Homo sapiens: one gene and its partners. The protein of the gene in region 2 purifies or fractionates together with the protein of the main gene of each other region. This does not show direct contact. Each region holds a gene or a part of one and is shown on either strand. Other genes may lie near its edges.

Region 1 (3,500 bases), on a different chromosome or scaffold from region 2:
AGCCTTTTTTCCTGTTTCTAGGACAGTCATATTCCTTCTCTGTTCTGTTTATTCATTCTTTTCGATCATCGCTTTAACAAGGTATTTAGTGTTTTTCTTAATTTTTTTTTTAGTACCGGCTAGATATTCTCAAATATTTGTTATCTATCTATTTCCCAGTTTCTCATTCACCTTTCATTTTGAAAAAATTTTTATTAAGAAATTTAACCAATGCAGAGATCAAATATTCAATTACATTTTTTCTAATTTTTTATAGACTCAATCATTTAACTCTTTAAACGTGATAATACAGTAACAACTAGGTATATTGTTATTTAAGTTTAAATTAAGTTAAATTAAAAATTCAGTTTGTCAATATTAATATTTTAATATTAAAAATATAATCTACATTTTTTAAACAGACTATATTTTTTAGAGAAGTTTTAGGTTTGATTTAGGTAAATTTAGAGCAATGTAGGTAAAACTGAGTGGAAAATACAGTGAGTTCCCATATACCTCAAGCCCACACAAAGTCTCTCCGCTATCAACATCCCTCACTAGAGTAGCACATTTTTTATAGTGAATGAACCAAGAATGACAATCCTTATCATCCAAAAGCCACAGTTTACATTATGTTCACTCTTGGTCTTGTCCATTCTATGGATCTTAACAACCAAATGATGACATGTATTCACCATTATGGTATCATGCAGAATAGTTTCACTGACCTAAAAATCCACTGTGCTTCACTCATTCATCCTTCCTCTCCCTTCTAACCTATGGAGATAGTAAAAAATTGATCTTTTTACTGTCTCTATAGTTTTGCCTTTTCCAGAATGTCATATAGTTGAAATTGTATAGTAACTAGCCTTTTCAGATTGGCTTCTTTTACATAGTAAAATACATTTAGGTTTCTTCCATGTTTTTTCATGGCTGAAAAGTTCATTTCTATTTAGCAATGAATAATATTCCATTATCTGGATGTATCAGTTTATCCATTCACCTACTCAAAGACATCTTGGTTACTTCAATGTTTTGACGAGTATGAATAAACCGACTACAAGCATTCACGTGCAGGTTTTTGTGTGGATGTAAGTTTTCAACTCATTTGGGTAAATACTAATGAGCACAACTGCTGCTTGGTATGTTAAGAGTGTCTAGCTTTCTAAGTAACTGCCCAACTGTCTTCCAAAGTGGCTGTATCATTTTGCATTTCCATTAGCAACAAATTTCCATGAGCAACAAATGAGAGTTCCTGTTACTCCAAATACTCATCAGCAGTTGGTACTGTACTGACCACGTTTTAAGTACTTAGCCACATACTGCTAATGGCTACCATATTGGACAGTCAAACAGAATATTTTCATCATTACACAAAATTTTAATGGAAAAGCTTGCTTAAAACTTTTTTTTTTTTTTTTTTTTTGAGATGGAGTTTCTCTCTTGTTGCCCAGGCTGGATGGAGTGCAATGGCACCATCTCAGCTCACTGCAACATCCGCCTCCTGGGTTCAAGCAATTCTCCTGCCTCAGCCTCCTGAGTAGCTGGGATTACAGGCACCCACCACCACACCCAGCTAATTTTTGTATTTTTAGTAGAGACAGGGTTTCACCATGTTGGCCAGGCTGGTCTCAAACTCCTGTCCTCAGGTGATCCACTCACCTCGGCCTCTCAAAGTGCTGGGATTACAGGCATGAGCCACCGCGCCCGGCCTCTCTGCTTAAAACTTAATTGGTTATACAGTAGGAAATGATGAACTAATATGACAGTGTTTTAACCTCTACATAAATCCATCTCTACTCCCACTGGATTTTGATGGTTCTTTGCTTATCTATATTTGCTCAGAAATTCAAATTCCTGCTCAGCCACTTCTTAACTGTGTGCCCATTAACATATTATTTAACCCCTCTGACTCTCAGTTTCTCATCCTAATTACTCATTAGTTTGGTACAAAGATTAAATTAGATAAGCAGGTAAGATAAATTACAACATTCATCATGTTACGCCCTCATTTGTAAACTCTTCTGGGTTAGAAGTTTGTTTTCTGAATGTTTCAGTTTCATACATTAAAGACCTTTATTAAAAGCAAAAGTATGTATTTACCTGGTCTGGATTTTTGTAACCCAAAAGTAGATTTGCTGCTTTTATATCACCATGAACATATTCATTTTCATGTATATATTCCAGTACATCCAACTGTGAAAATAAATAGATAAAATAAGGTTTACTGCTATTTAGAACTCATGATCAATTTCAACATTTTGAATATAGAATAACATGGGTTTTTTCATATTAACATTGACAAAGCGATGTATTTCACAATTACTGGTTAATTATTCTAAAATATCACATCTTCTGGTTGCTCATCCTAGAAAAAAGTAAAATGATCCTCAAAAATCAAGTATTTTAGTTGAAGTTCCAAAGGAAGAAAATCAAGATTCAAAAATGCTTATGCCTAATTCCTGATAGCCCAGTAGCCAAACCGCACTGCACAAAGAGGAAAAACATAGCATAAAATCAGAGATCTATGGTGAAATAATCTTGAAGCCCACTCAGCAATTCCTCACCTAAGCAATAATTATAAATCAAGCCTTGAGAATCTCAGAACAAAATGCCATGTCCATGAGCAAAGGGAAAGGTATTCTTCCTCTGTATGGTAATAGAAAACTCCTTAGCTTCATCTCTAAAGCCCTTCAGCCTTGCATGTTACATACACTTAGTACTCAATAAACATTTGCTGGCTTCGAGGATGGATAAATGAGAAAATTAATGCATTCTATTTGCTGCATTCCAATCTGGCATAAGCAGCTTCATGCTACTCAAAAGTGAAAAAATGAGACTTAAACAAACCAAATACAAACATATAAGACAAATATGTAGTATAAACAAATGTGTGCCTGAGTGCTATTAAGAGTTCGTTGCTTCTGCTTTGGCAAAGTATATTTTATTCATTGTCACAACTAATTATTGCCACCATCCCAAACTCATAATAAAAACTTCATAGCACCCCCCTACCATCACATGTTTAAAATGTCTGACAATATATTTTGCCATAATTTGCATTGTTATAACTGACAAAAGAAAGGTTATTCTTACAGCAATGAAAGCTTGTTCTGGTATGTAAAACAAAGCTCTAAGGAAAAAGAAGATCAGACTGGAGAACCAAAGCCTAATTGAGTTTGCAGTGCCATACACAGCACATTCTGTCACTTACAGAGCCCATTGTTATCAATTTCACCAAAATAGCCTCTACTCCTAATAACTGATGTCTCTAGGGCAATAATCCTTCATTCTCTAATAATTCCACAAAGGGAAAAGATTTCTATATTGCAAGAAGTAAACAATTTGGAAATGGAGCATGCGAAATAAGTAATTCTTACCATTCGGATACCTAATTGCAGGACAGTTGACTTTTTAAAGGTACCATTCTGGCCTGAGATCTTCTGTAAATCTATTCCTAGTCTTTCCATTACCATAAATCTGTAACTGTAAGAAAAAAGCATCAAAAAGAGATCATCCTG
Region 2 (4,209 bases):
ATATATCACAATTATGATCTTAGATTTAGTTCTGGCCATTTTATTACAAGATAAATAGTTCTTTTCGTACCAATGGCTGTTTTTCCCTTTATCAAGTGAATATATTTCTTTTTTTTTTTCAAGCTCAAAAATCTCGGATTATAAAGTCGGATGCCTATGTCTGTCCCCTCTACAAGACAAGTGAACGTAAAGGAACTCTTTCCACTACGGGACATTCTACTAACTTTGTCATTGCAATGTTGTTAAAAACAGACCAACCTACTCGGCACTGGATCAAGCGCGGGGTTGCTTTGCTTTGTCAGTTGGATGACTAAATTGGACAAATTTATAAAACATCCAAAAGTTTAAAAAAAAAAAAACCTGTCCTACTTAAAATATATACATTATAAAACCAAGTGTTTTGGTGTTATTCTTTTAAATGATCTTTGCAAACACTCATTGCATTGTTCTCCTTTCTGAGGAGAACTTTTTGAAGTTTGATTGTATGTGAAAAATAGATTTGGGGGTTAAACGGTAACATTTAACAAATATCAGGAATTATCTCCTTCACAAATGTTAAGTCATTCCTTCAGCTTCAGTATAGTTTACTTTCCACTCTCCTACCTAAAGTAATTATACATAAATATTTCAAATACATAAATTAAGAAATTATAAATATGGAAAATATTAAAAGTTACCCAACTATACCTCTTTATTTCTTACCTCTAAGACATCGGTTCCATTTCTCACTGCATCCTTGTGACTAGGAAAGGAAACTCAAAGCTGCGAAGTTGGCCTGCAAAGGCAGTAGGATGGCTTGAGGGCAGTCCGAACTTCTACACCTGCAGTGACAGTGTGCTTCTCGGCATTTGCTTCATATTTAATTTGAAATGTCAAGTGGTCCCTTTGCTTTTTTTAGTGTATATTAACAATTTAAAAATATTTCAACAAAACAGAATTTTGATCAAAATTTTATCTTGTGTAGAGTGAATTCTTCCCTTAGGATTCCAAGGACACTGAAGGCCACAGTTCTGTAACCCAAGGAAAATGTAGTCACAGCTACCTAGTGAATCTAGTACATTGGGACAGTCACTTTGGATAATTGGGTCAGAGCAAAATGTTTGGGTTCTCTTAAGTGAAAAATTGATTGTGGTTTGCAGTGGCTATGTGCATGAATTCTCTTTGCATGGCCAACCCCCTGCAAAAGCATTTTATTCCAGGAATAAAATATTTAATCCTTTAAATTTGATGAATGTAGCACTGAAGAAAAGAGATCATGTTTCCAAAAAGAGCTAAACCACATGTAAAAAACAAGGAGAATGTGCCAAACTGTCTTATGATGAAGTATTTATAGTAAAGCTATTAATGGAATGGTCACTACAGGGGAGAGGAGAGCCTAAATATAAATGAAAATTCTGAGGCTTACATGTGTTAGTCCTTAACAGTGAAAACTTCACTGCTGTCCTAGAGGATAAAACAAAAGGTAAAAAGTCTTTGAAATGTGACCAAATGTATTCTATGCTAAAACTGACATTTTTCTTTTAAAACCATTTAGATATTGCCTAGTAAGATACATTTGTTTTTACTACTGCTGTATCCATGTTGTAATTATGAGAATACATTTGTTCCTATAACATGTTTATTTTTAATGTATATTAAGTAAAATATTATTTTCAGCATCACACTGTGTGTAGGAAAGATATTATTTTGGATGAGTGCTACAATCACTGTGAAAGACTCACAGCCAAGTTGAACAGATCAGAGTGTTGTCAGTGTTAGAGTGGCACTAACCGAAGTCTTATTTGAAAGGTGGTTTTTCCTGAATAAGCTTTAAGTCAATGGCTACTCATGGAAACTTCTAATTTTTGTTGAATCTGTGGCAGTCCACAAAACTTTTTTAAGTTTATAGAAATTTTTTAGTGAATATTTTGTTTCCTAAATTTTGTATATTTTTCATTGTTAATCCTACCAATTTTCTAGATTTCTGAATTTCATTTGTAATTTTAAGCAGTTGATCTCTTCACAACTGGAAAAATACTTTTAATTCACTCTGACTTTAAAGTAAACCTGTCCACGTTTCACATGGATAATTACACCAGCGATGAAGACATAGATGAAGACTTTGACACCCAGCTCATCATTCAACAGAGTTTGCAGGATATTTATAAGCCAGGAACAGCACAACATGCACCTAAGGATGAGAGGTAATGGTTTTCTCATCGGCAATATAGTATTAAGTGTTGTATTCAACAGCTGACACTTGTCATTAGCTTAACTCTAGTGTTGTGACAAAAACAGGAGGGTCAGAATCCAAGGAGCTGTCAATTAAATATCTGTAAGATATTATGCCTAACTAGACAGGAATAATCTGGAAATAATTCAGAATTTAATTAGGCAATAAAAATATCTGAAGGAGGTTAGCAGCAAATCTGGGTGAGGTGATACAGACTGGAAATCAGAAGAAAGAAAGGAGGATATGAAGGGCTAGAGAAAAACTAATACATCTTGTCTTTGGGAATTGAAGAAATGCATAAATCCAACCGGGACACATAGAAAGTTAGTTATCTTCAACCTTAGTAGGGTAGGTGGGGATGGGGTCCAGTCTTTGATCTACTCAAATCAAAAGGAGGAATTACATAAACTTGAACAAGGCTTCTGAAAGTGTAGATTCAGAGTTTTGTTGGACAACACTGAAAAAGGACCAGTGGGACCCTGTGTGGGGTGTAAGAAGAATCGTCCTGGATATGGCACACCTGCTCACACGCTCGCTGGCCAATCAGCAACCTTGGTCTCCTGAGGCAGTAACCATCATTTTTTCAGGGGTGATAACCCAGTTTACTTGGGATGGTAATCTCTATTTGCCTGCTGGATGTAAAACTAGAAAAATGTCTTTTAACCCCAAGAGATTTCATAACTAAATAGAGACAATGAAGTACATCAAACCTATATAGTATTTTTAAAATGTAACAAACCATGGAGTGATCACTATGTGTCATGTTATTTTAAGCACTTCATAAATACTAACTTTTAAATTCTAATTCTCATTACCTCTCTATGAGGTAGGTCCTATTATTATCCCTACTTAGAGAGGAGGAAAGTGAGGCACAGAAAAGTTAAGTGGCTTACCCAAGGTCACAGAACTAGTAAGTGAAGAGCAAGGCAGTCTGATTCTAAAGTCTGTGCTCTTAGCCACACACTATTCCTATACTTTTGTGTTCAATTTAGGATTAGTTTTTAAAATAATCTTTAAATATTTAAAGTTTTGTAAAGAAATTAGCCTTATTAGATTATCTGTTATATTAACCTTATGATTAAAACCTTAAATTGCATAATTGAGTAACTGACTTTGAACTTACAATTTTAGGTTGAAAGGTATAAGAGAGTTGGGCTAAGGAGAGTATTGAAATGTTTCAGAGAAACTGAAATTGACTGTGGTTATGCATTTACTTGATTAGATTTGCAGGAAGTGTATGATACTTAGGCAGGCTTGCTGATTTAGTCAGGTACTTGAAGGAATTAGAAAACTAGAACATACTTGTGACATGTGGAGTAATGGTCCCATCCAAAGATGTCCTAATTTCTGGAACCTTACATGGCAAAGGAGAAGTAAGGCTACAGATGGAATTATGGCTGCTAATCAGCTGACTTTTAGATAGGGGGTGTACTCTGGATTACCCAGGTGGTCCCAGTGTAACACAGGATCTTTAAGTGTGAAAGAGGGGGAGCCAGGAGAGACAACTTGGGAGATGGCAGTGTTAAAAGGACTAAGCCCAACAATGCTGGCTTTGAAGATGGAGGCAGAGAGTCCACCAGCCAAGAAATGTGGGTGGCTTCTAGAAGCTAGAAAAGGCAGAGATAGAGTCTCCCCAAGAGCCTCCAGAAGGAACAGAGCCCTGCTGACATCTTGATTTCAGTCCGGTGAGGACTGTTTTGGATTTCTGAACTACTAAACTGTAAGATAATAAATTTGTTTTATTATTGTTGTTTTAAGCCACTAAGTGTGTGGTTACTTCTTACAGCAGCTATAGAAAACTAACACAATACTAAATCTATGAATGCAGGTTTAAATGTTTAAGATAATGTAATTGACCAAATTGTAAACAGGACAGAGTGTCCGAGGGAATTTATTCTCCTCAACCTGGGTTCGTTAAATAATTAGAGTGGAAGGTGGCCGGGTGTGGTGGCTCATGCCTGTAATCCCCGCACTTTGGGAGGCCGAGGCGAGCAGAT
Region 3 (3,500 bases), on a different chromosome or scaffold from region 2:
GAGGATCAACACTTTTTTTTTTTTTTTTTTTGAGACCGAGTCTTGCTCTGTCACCCAGGCTGGAGTGCAATGGCGCAATCTAGGCTCACTGCAACATCCACCTCCCAGGTTCAAGCAATTCTCCTGTCTCAGCCTCCCAGGTAGCTGGGATTACAGGCACGTGCCACCACGCCCGGCTAATTTTTCTATTTTTTTAGTAGAGACAGGGTTTCACCATGTTGGCCAGACTGGTCCTGAACGCCTCACCTCGGGTAATCCACCTGCCTCAGCCTTCCAAAGTGCTGGGAATACAGGCGTGAGCCACCACGCCCAGCCGAGGCCCAACACTTCTATAAACTCCAGTCCTTTCTGAGAGTAAGATTTACAAACGAAGAGATAACAGCAGTCCAACTACGGACAATGAGGAGAAATAGTTAACATTTACCAATCGTGACCCAGACATCAGCCTAAGTGCTTTACATGCATTACTTAATTCAGGTTTCCTCATCACCCGACGCAGGAGGCTCTGTTATCCTCTCCATTTTAAGGGTGAGGAAACTGAGGCACAGGGCTGGCTAGTGACATGCCCATGACGTGTCAACTCACTTCTCTTTCTGAGCCCTGAGGTATGGTTTGATGATCAGACGGTGCATGGCAAAGTAGACCACTAGAGGCCCCACGGTGGCATAGAACATGGCGCTGGGCAGAAGCTGGTCCGTCAAGTGAATAGGGAAGAAGTATGTCTGACTGGCCCTGTTGAGCCTGGGGAAAAATACAAAAAAAAAAAAAAAAAAGCCAAGATGAATCAGGTTTTCCAGGGAAGGGCAATGGGGTGTCAGGCACAGGAAGAGAACTTGTGCTGCGTGCAGCTGCGAGTTAAAGGAGCCTGCAGTCTGCTCCTTTCACAGTCCACCACCTTCTGGCCTCCCGTTCCAAAGTCTGGCTGATGGATCTGACACTGTGACAGAAGAAAGATCCCAGTGTCTGCTGACCTCAAGCCAAAGCAACAAGAGGAACACTTCACGGGGTCAACGTCCCCTACAGGTGCATTCAGTCATAGGCTGGAGAGGACAGGAATGGGCTCCTCCAGATGTCACTGGAGAGTCACATCTCAGTTCTTAACTGAGGTTTCCAAAGAAGTTAGTGAAGACTTCAAAAGTTAGTCAGTTAAGGAGGTTCTGCTTCCAGTGGTGGCTGAGTAAAGTAGCTCCTATTGGACCAATGTGTAAACTCTGGACCACATATAAAAAATTTGGCCAGGCGTGGTGGCTCACGCCTGTAATCCCAGTACTTTGGGAGGCTGAGGTGGGCGAATCACCTGAGGTCAGGAATTTGAGACCAGCCTGGCCAACATGGTGAAACTTCATCTCTACCAAAAATACAAAAATTAGCCGGGCGTGGTGGTACCTGTCTGTAGTCCCAGCTACTCGGGAGGCTGAGTGAGGCGGGAGAACGCTTCAACCCAGGAGGCAGATTGTACCACAGCACTCCAGCCTGGTCAACAAGAGGAAAAGGACTGAGGATGCATGGACAGAATCTCAGAAACCCGTGGAAGAGTGTTAAGTTTAATATATTGGTAATTAGAGCCCCAGTGAGGAAAAGGAAATTTACAGATGCAAGAAGTTTAGGAAACCCCAAGCATCATAAATACAACAACAGCCTTATCTATGTACATCACAAACTGCTGAAAAGCCAGAAAAAGAAAACATGCTGAGTAGCCACTGACAATACCTGATCACACTCTTCCAGAATAAAAGCTCTTCCAGAATAAAAGCAATTCCAGAATTGATAAAGAACACTCAAAACTTGGCCAGGCTCAGTGGCTCACGCCTGTAATCCTAGCATTTTGGGAGGCTGAGGCAGGAGGATCGCTTGAGGTCAGGAGTTTGAGACCAGCCTGGCCAACATGGTGAAACCCTGTCTCTACTTAAAATACAAAAATTAGCTGGGTGTGGTGGTGGGCGCCTGTAATCCCAGCTACTCAGGAGGCTGAGGTAGGAGAATTGCTTGAACCTGGGAGGTGGAGGTTGCAGTGAGCCAAATGCACTCCAGTCTGGGGTGCAAGAGCGAAACTCCGTCTCCAAAAAAAAAAAAAATATATATATATATATACACACACACACACACACACACACACAAACAGAGACAGGTTAAATGTGAATGGGTAAAAAAAATAAATAGTAAGCATAAGAAGACTAAAAAAGCTATATAGTAACAGATAAGGTAGACTTCAAGACAAAAATTTTTTTTTTTTTTTGAAGTGACAGGGTCTCACTCTGTCATCTAGGCTGAGGGGCACAATCACAGCTCACTACCACCTTGAGCTCCTGGGCTCAAGTGATCTTCCTGTCTTGGCCTCCCAAAGTGTGCGCGCCACTGTACTGAGCCTTCAAATATTATCTGAGGAGAGATGGCTGACGCCAGCTCTAATCTAGGTAAGTGATTTGGCTTTGTTTCCAAAACTGAGCTGTGATCCACTTTGATTCACTCACTGAGTTCCTCTCAAGTACCACGATGGGTTTTAGGTTCTAGAAGTGCGGGTGAGAATAAAATGGACCAAGTCCAAGAGCTTATGTCTGATGAGGAGTGCAGGAGATGGCCCTTCAGATGGAGACTGGCTCGTTGGAGATTGAACATGGCAAACATGGTGGGGGGGATCACCTGGGGCAAGGGGAAGGGCTACTATGTTATACAAGGTGAATTAGGGGACATTTGAGCAGACAGCAGATACTTACAGGGAGTGAAGGAAATGGCCACGTATTTATCTGCAGACTGAGAAATAGCAAAGGCCACCTCATAAGCAGGAGGGGGCCTGGTGTGTGCCAGGAATAGCTCCAGGGGGTCAGGATGGCTGGGGTTGGGGTAGAGAGGAGTACTACATCACGGAGGGCATTGTAGGCTCCAAAGTCTCTGAAGGGCTTTGGCCTCCGACTGGAATTGAGGGAACCTCTGAGGTTTTAGGCAGAAGACAGACGTGAACTGCCTTCAATTTTAAAAAGGACTCTCCTACGGAAAGCAGACACACAAGGAGGGAGACAGGTTCCGTGGGGAGGGTGCTGTGTAACTAAGACAAAGATGCTGGCCGCAGTGAGGTTGAGAAATGGCGAGACTGGGGATACAATTTTGGAGTACATGTTCAGGAGATGATTTTGAGATATGTATGATTTGGAGTGTGGGAGAGAAAGAGATCGAGGCTGACTCCAAGGTTTTTGGACAGAGCAAGTAGAAGGCCAGAGCTCTCATTTACTGAGATAGGAAAGGAGGCTGGGCGCTGTGGCTCACACCTGTAATCCTAACACTTTAGGAGGCCGAAGCGGGAGAACTACTTGAAGCCAGGAGTTCAAAACCAACCTGGGCAACCAAGTGAGACCCTGTCTCTATAAAAATAAAATAAAAAAAGAGAGAGAGATGGGAAAGACTTCGGGCAGAGCAGGTTCTGAAGGTTCTTCGTTTCTGGGGGCACAGGGAGGGATCGAGTTCTGTTTGGATACGTGACATCTGAGATGCTGTTAGGTATCCAA
Region 4 (3,500 bases), on a different chromosome or scaffold from region 2:
GGTGAGCCCTGCTCTCACCAAATGCCCCTGATTGGCCAGGTCCCAGTTCCAGTAACCTGAAGGATCCTGGAGAGATGAGAACTGCTCTGGGATGAGTGGCACCATACTTCTCTCCAGGGAAGATTCTGCTGCCTGCTGGCTGCTATGGGATGCTGGCTGGCAGAACTGGGTCCTCCCAGTTGCCAGGGCCACAGCCCCAGAAGCTGTTTCTTAGACAGGCATTCTGAATTACTTAATTCCCATTATGTGTTTATACCAGAACCAAGGATTCACTGAATCGGCAGCCTTTCTTCTCCTGAATATACTCGGGAGACTTTGGCATGGTCACACTTCCCTCCTGTTCAGTCCCTACTGTCCATAGAAAGTCAAGAAAACATTTATTTTCTTTTGCTACCACCCTCCCTTTGCCTGTGAGGATGTAATCCAGGTTTGGCCAGTTACCTGAACCTAGAGAGAAGCAACTTGAGATGCAAGCTCCTGCCTGTGGGACTGAGGAGCAGCCCAAGAACTGGGGTCCCACGGGTCTCCGCAGCAGAGAGAGGAAGGCACTAGCCGACAGGGGCCTGCTCCACACTGAACTATCCCTGCCCTGGGAATGGCATATGTGGAAGCTTTCCCTTTCTCTCTACCAAAGGGTAGAGAAGAAGCAAACAGAAGCAATCTCCTTGCCTCTTGTCTTTTCATGCCTTCAGCAGCATTTCTTAAGGGCTTGGTTTTCCCATCTGTGTCACGGAAACAGAAGTGTTGCTTCTGAACCTGTGACCTCACTCAGTTTCTGAGTCTTCCCACGAGTAGATCTCCCTACCCACCCAGCCCTGCCTGCACCCACACTGGAAATGGAGGTCATTTTTCAGTTTTCCATTGCCTCCTTAATGTTCTCATCAAACGGTAAAAGCCTGGGTGAGATCCCCAGGTATGTCAAGTCTCTGGCAGCAGCGCTTTGGCCTTGCCCTCAGTGTCTCTCACATACAGATCCCTAGTCCTGCCTTTGGCCTAGTGCCATGGCAGGAGCCCAGTCAGATGCAAGAACATGCCCAGGCTCCAGTAAGCAGCTCGGATGTCCTGGAGCCCTGAGACGGGCAGGGATGGTGTCTCCCAAGAACTGTTCATGGATTGTGGAAACAGCTCCTACTCACTGCTCATAGCACAGGTTTCAGACTCACATAGGTTACTGGTTGGATCAGTACCATAGGCACCTGGGCATGTTACAGGTGGATCCCATCTTAGGAGGCTTCTCTCTGAGCTGCTGTGCCCAAGCTGAGAGAGCTAATGGGCTCAGTGAAGTCACCCAGGAGAAAGTATTACAGAGCTCCACATCGGCTGTCTGCAGCTTCAAACGAGATATAAAATAGATATCCTGGGGGAGGGAGAAAGGCTCCAAATTCAAATACATGACGGACTTTTATTAAAGTTAAGCTAGTTTCTTCATCGCAGGATTTCTGTCTTTACTGTGGTCATGTATTTTAGGACCCTCCAAAAGGGAGATGGAACAGGAAAGACAGCCCCCACCCTCTTCTCCACCCACAATTACCCAGACATAGACACAAAATCAAATACTGGGACTGGAAAGGAGACCCCTAAGGTCCAGTAGTCCCAGCTCTATCATTTTATAAAAAGGGTGAGGCTAAGAGAGAAGGAAATTTGCCCGAGGTCACACTGCTAATAAGTGACGTGGCTGAGATTAGATGGGCATTCTATTATTCCCCAAGACCATCCACCCGAGCATGTATTCTCTCAGTCCCCCTGGTAAAACCTATGAAGCATTTTGGGGGAGCCTTCACTCTCCTGACACTAAAATGGGTTTCCATGTTGACAGTCCTGGGCACTGAGGCAGGAGAGCAGCTGGCTGTGAGCACAGCCCCCAGATCCTAAATGAGAGTCAGAGACAAATGTGGACTATGAAGGGCTTTTTTCCTGAAGTTTCAAGTAGCCTTTGGAAGAAGCTGGGGATGTGCTGCCTTAACCTGTGTGAGGCAGTTCAGGCTGTCTATCACACTGGACTTTGCCTTGCTACAGGCTGGAGAAGTCAAGCCAAGTCCGCACAGTGTCCAGCAGCAATTTATTCTTTAAAGGGAGCCGGTTCCGATACAGGTAAATAGTGACAGTAAGTAACCATTATGGATCTATTTTCAGACCCTTCTCTGGAGAACTCAGTGGTCCTTATCCTTTAGAACAGAGAAACCAGGGAGGACTCAGAAAAGTCTGAGGTCTCCATCTAATTCTCCCATCTTATGACCCTTTTACTATTTCCTTCCTTCCCTACAGCAATTTGTCTGTAGGGTTTTAAATGTATATTGGCCGGCCATAGTGGCTCATGCCTATAATCCCAGCACTCTGGGAGGCTGAGGCAGGTGGATCACTTGAGGCCAGGAGTTTGAAATCAGCCTGGGCAACATGATGAAACCCCATCTCTACTAAAAATACAAAAAAAATTATCTGGGTGTGGTGGCACACACCTGTAGTCCCAGCTACTTGGGAGGCTGAGGTGGGAGAATTGCTTAAGCTCAGGAGGTCGAGGCTGCAGTGAGCCATGATTGCACCACTGCACTCCAGCCCAGGAGACAGAGCAAGACCCTGTCTCCAAGAAAATGAAAAATAAATATGTATCTTCTCTTTCCCTTACAATAGCAAAATAAGAACTATAACAGTGATTCATGTCTCACTGTCTAAAGGTTGTTCTTATGTGTTTTTTTGTGATGTAATTGGAACATGCTGGAAAATGAGGAATTACTCCTAAATGAGAATGGAAGATCCTAAAGACTCTAGAGATGGAGAGAGTTCTCTCAGATAGGCTGTCATGACAGTTTAGAAGTCTACCCCACCAAGCAAGCCTTTCTCCATGACCAAAACATCAGGGAAAGGGTGGGCCACAGATGCCATTTCCTGATTCAGGGAAAGCACCTAAGATCTTGGAGAGGAGCTGTCCTACAACACAGTCTCATTTCTTGCTGCTTGTTTTTATTACACTACTTACAGTGGCCGAGTTGCAAAGGAAGTCATGGAATCAAGTGCTAAGATCAAACGGGAGCCACCGGAAATACACAGGTAGGCTGCCAGGGGCTTCCCCCCAAACAGTTGTAGCTCAGATCCCAGAATCTCAATCCAGCAGTTTGAGTACTGTGAAGCCCCTGGCTCCAGTGGCTACCAAAAAGTCCAAAATGGAGCAGAAGGCTGAAGAAACTTCTCAGAGGGATGGGGAGAAGTCTTTGACCCTTAATAAGAGAGCTGGGGAGGGAGGAAGGGCTACTGCAGATAGTACATCAGATCCAGGTGCCACTTCACTTGGCAATTCTCTTCTGCCCTCCCTAGTCTTGACACTGATCATAGATGTGTCACACAATTTCAGTGGTTCTGGAACCAGTCGATCATATGAAGCCAAGGATAGTCCCACAGCCCTGCCACACTGGCTCTAAAATAATTTCAGGATCCATGCTTCATGTAGATCCACAAATTGTGTTTCCAGAAGCCTATCTCCTAGAATCTAAGACCCAGAAAGAATA

Evidence for each region. The genes of interacting proteins can lie anywhere in the genome.
Region 1: the proteins of ASB14 (region 2) and VRK2 purify together in Homo sapiens (affinity purification with mass spectrometry; one large-scale study listed by BioGRID and IntAct). This does not show direct contact.
Region 3: the proteins of ASB14 (region 2) and DNAJC11 purify together in Homo sapiens (affinity purification with mass spectrometry; one large-scale study listed by BioGRID and IntAct). This does not show direct contact.
Region 4: the proteins of ASB14 (region 2) and FRMD5 purify together in Homo sapiens (affinity purification with mass spectrometry; one large-scale study listed by BioGRID and IntAct). This does not show direct contact.

What each region holds. Positions count from the first base shown.
Region 1 is NC_000002.12:58,088,306-58,091,805, reverse strand, and holds part of VRK2 (serine/threonine-protein kinase VRK2), read right to left. Parts: intron 3,466-3,500; coding exon 3,360-3,465; intron 2,176-3,359; coding exon 2,083-2,175; intron 1-2,082. UniProt on the Homo sapiens protein: Serine/threonine kinase that regulates several signal transduction pathways.
Region 2 is NC_000003.12:57,289,886-57,294,094, reverse strand, and holds the start of ASB14 (ankyrin repeat and SOCS box protein 14), read left to right. Parts: upstream 1-1,409; 5' UTR 1,410-1,462; intron 1,463-1,987; exon of another isoform or gene 1,988-1,990; 5' UTR 1,991-2,061; coding exon 2,062-2,183; intron 2,184-4,209. Other genes in the region: DNAH12 (dynein axonemal heavy chain 12), read left to right, coding at 124-314. UniProt on the Homo sapiens protein: May be a substrate-recognition component of a SCF-like ECS (Elongin-Cullin-SOCS-box protein) E3 ubiquitin-protein ligase complex which mediates the ubiquitination and subsequent proteasomal degradation of target proteins.
Region 3 is NC_000001.11:6,639,317-6,642,816, forward strand, and holds part of DNAJC11 (dnaJ homolog subfamily C member 11), read right to left. Parts: intron 742-3,500; coding exon 586-741; intron 1-585.
Region 4 is NC_000015.10:43,884,272-43,887,771, reverse strand, and holds part of FRMD5 (FERM domain-containing protein 5), read left to right. Parts: intron 1-2,016; coding exon 2,017-2,091; exon of another isoform or gene 2,092-2,104; intron 2,105-2,976; coding exon 2,977-3,045; intron 3,046-3,500. UniProt on the Homo sapiens protein: May be involved in regulation of cell migration. May regulate cell-matrix interactions via its interaction with ITGB5 and modifying ITGB5 cytoplasmic tail interactions such as with FERMT2 and TLN1.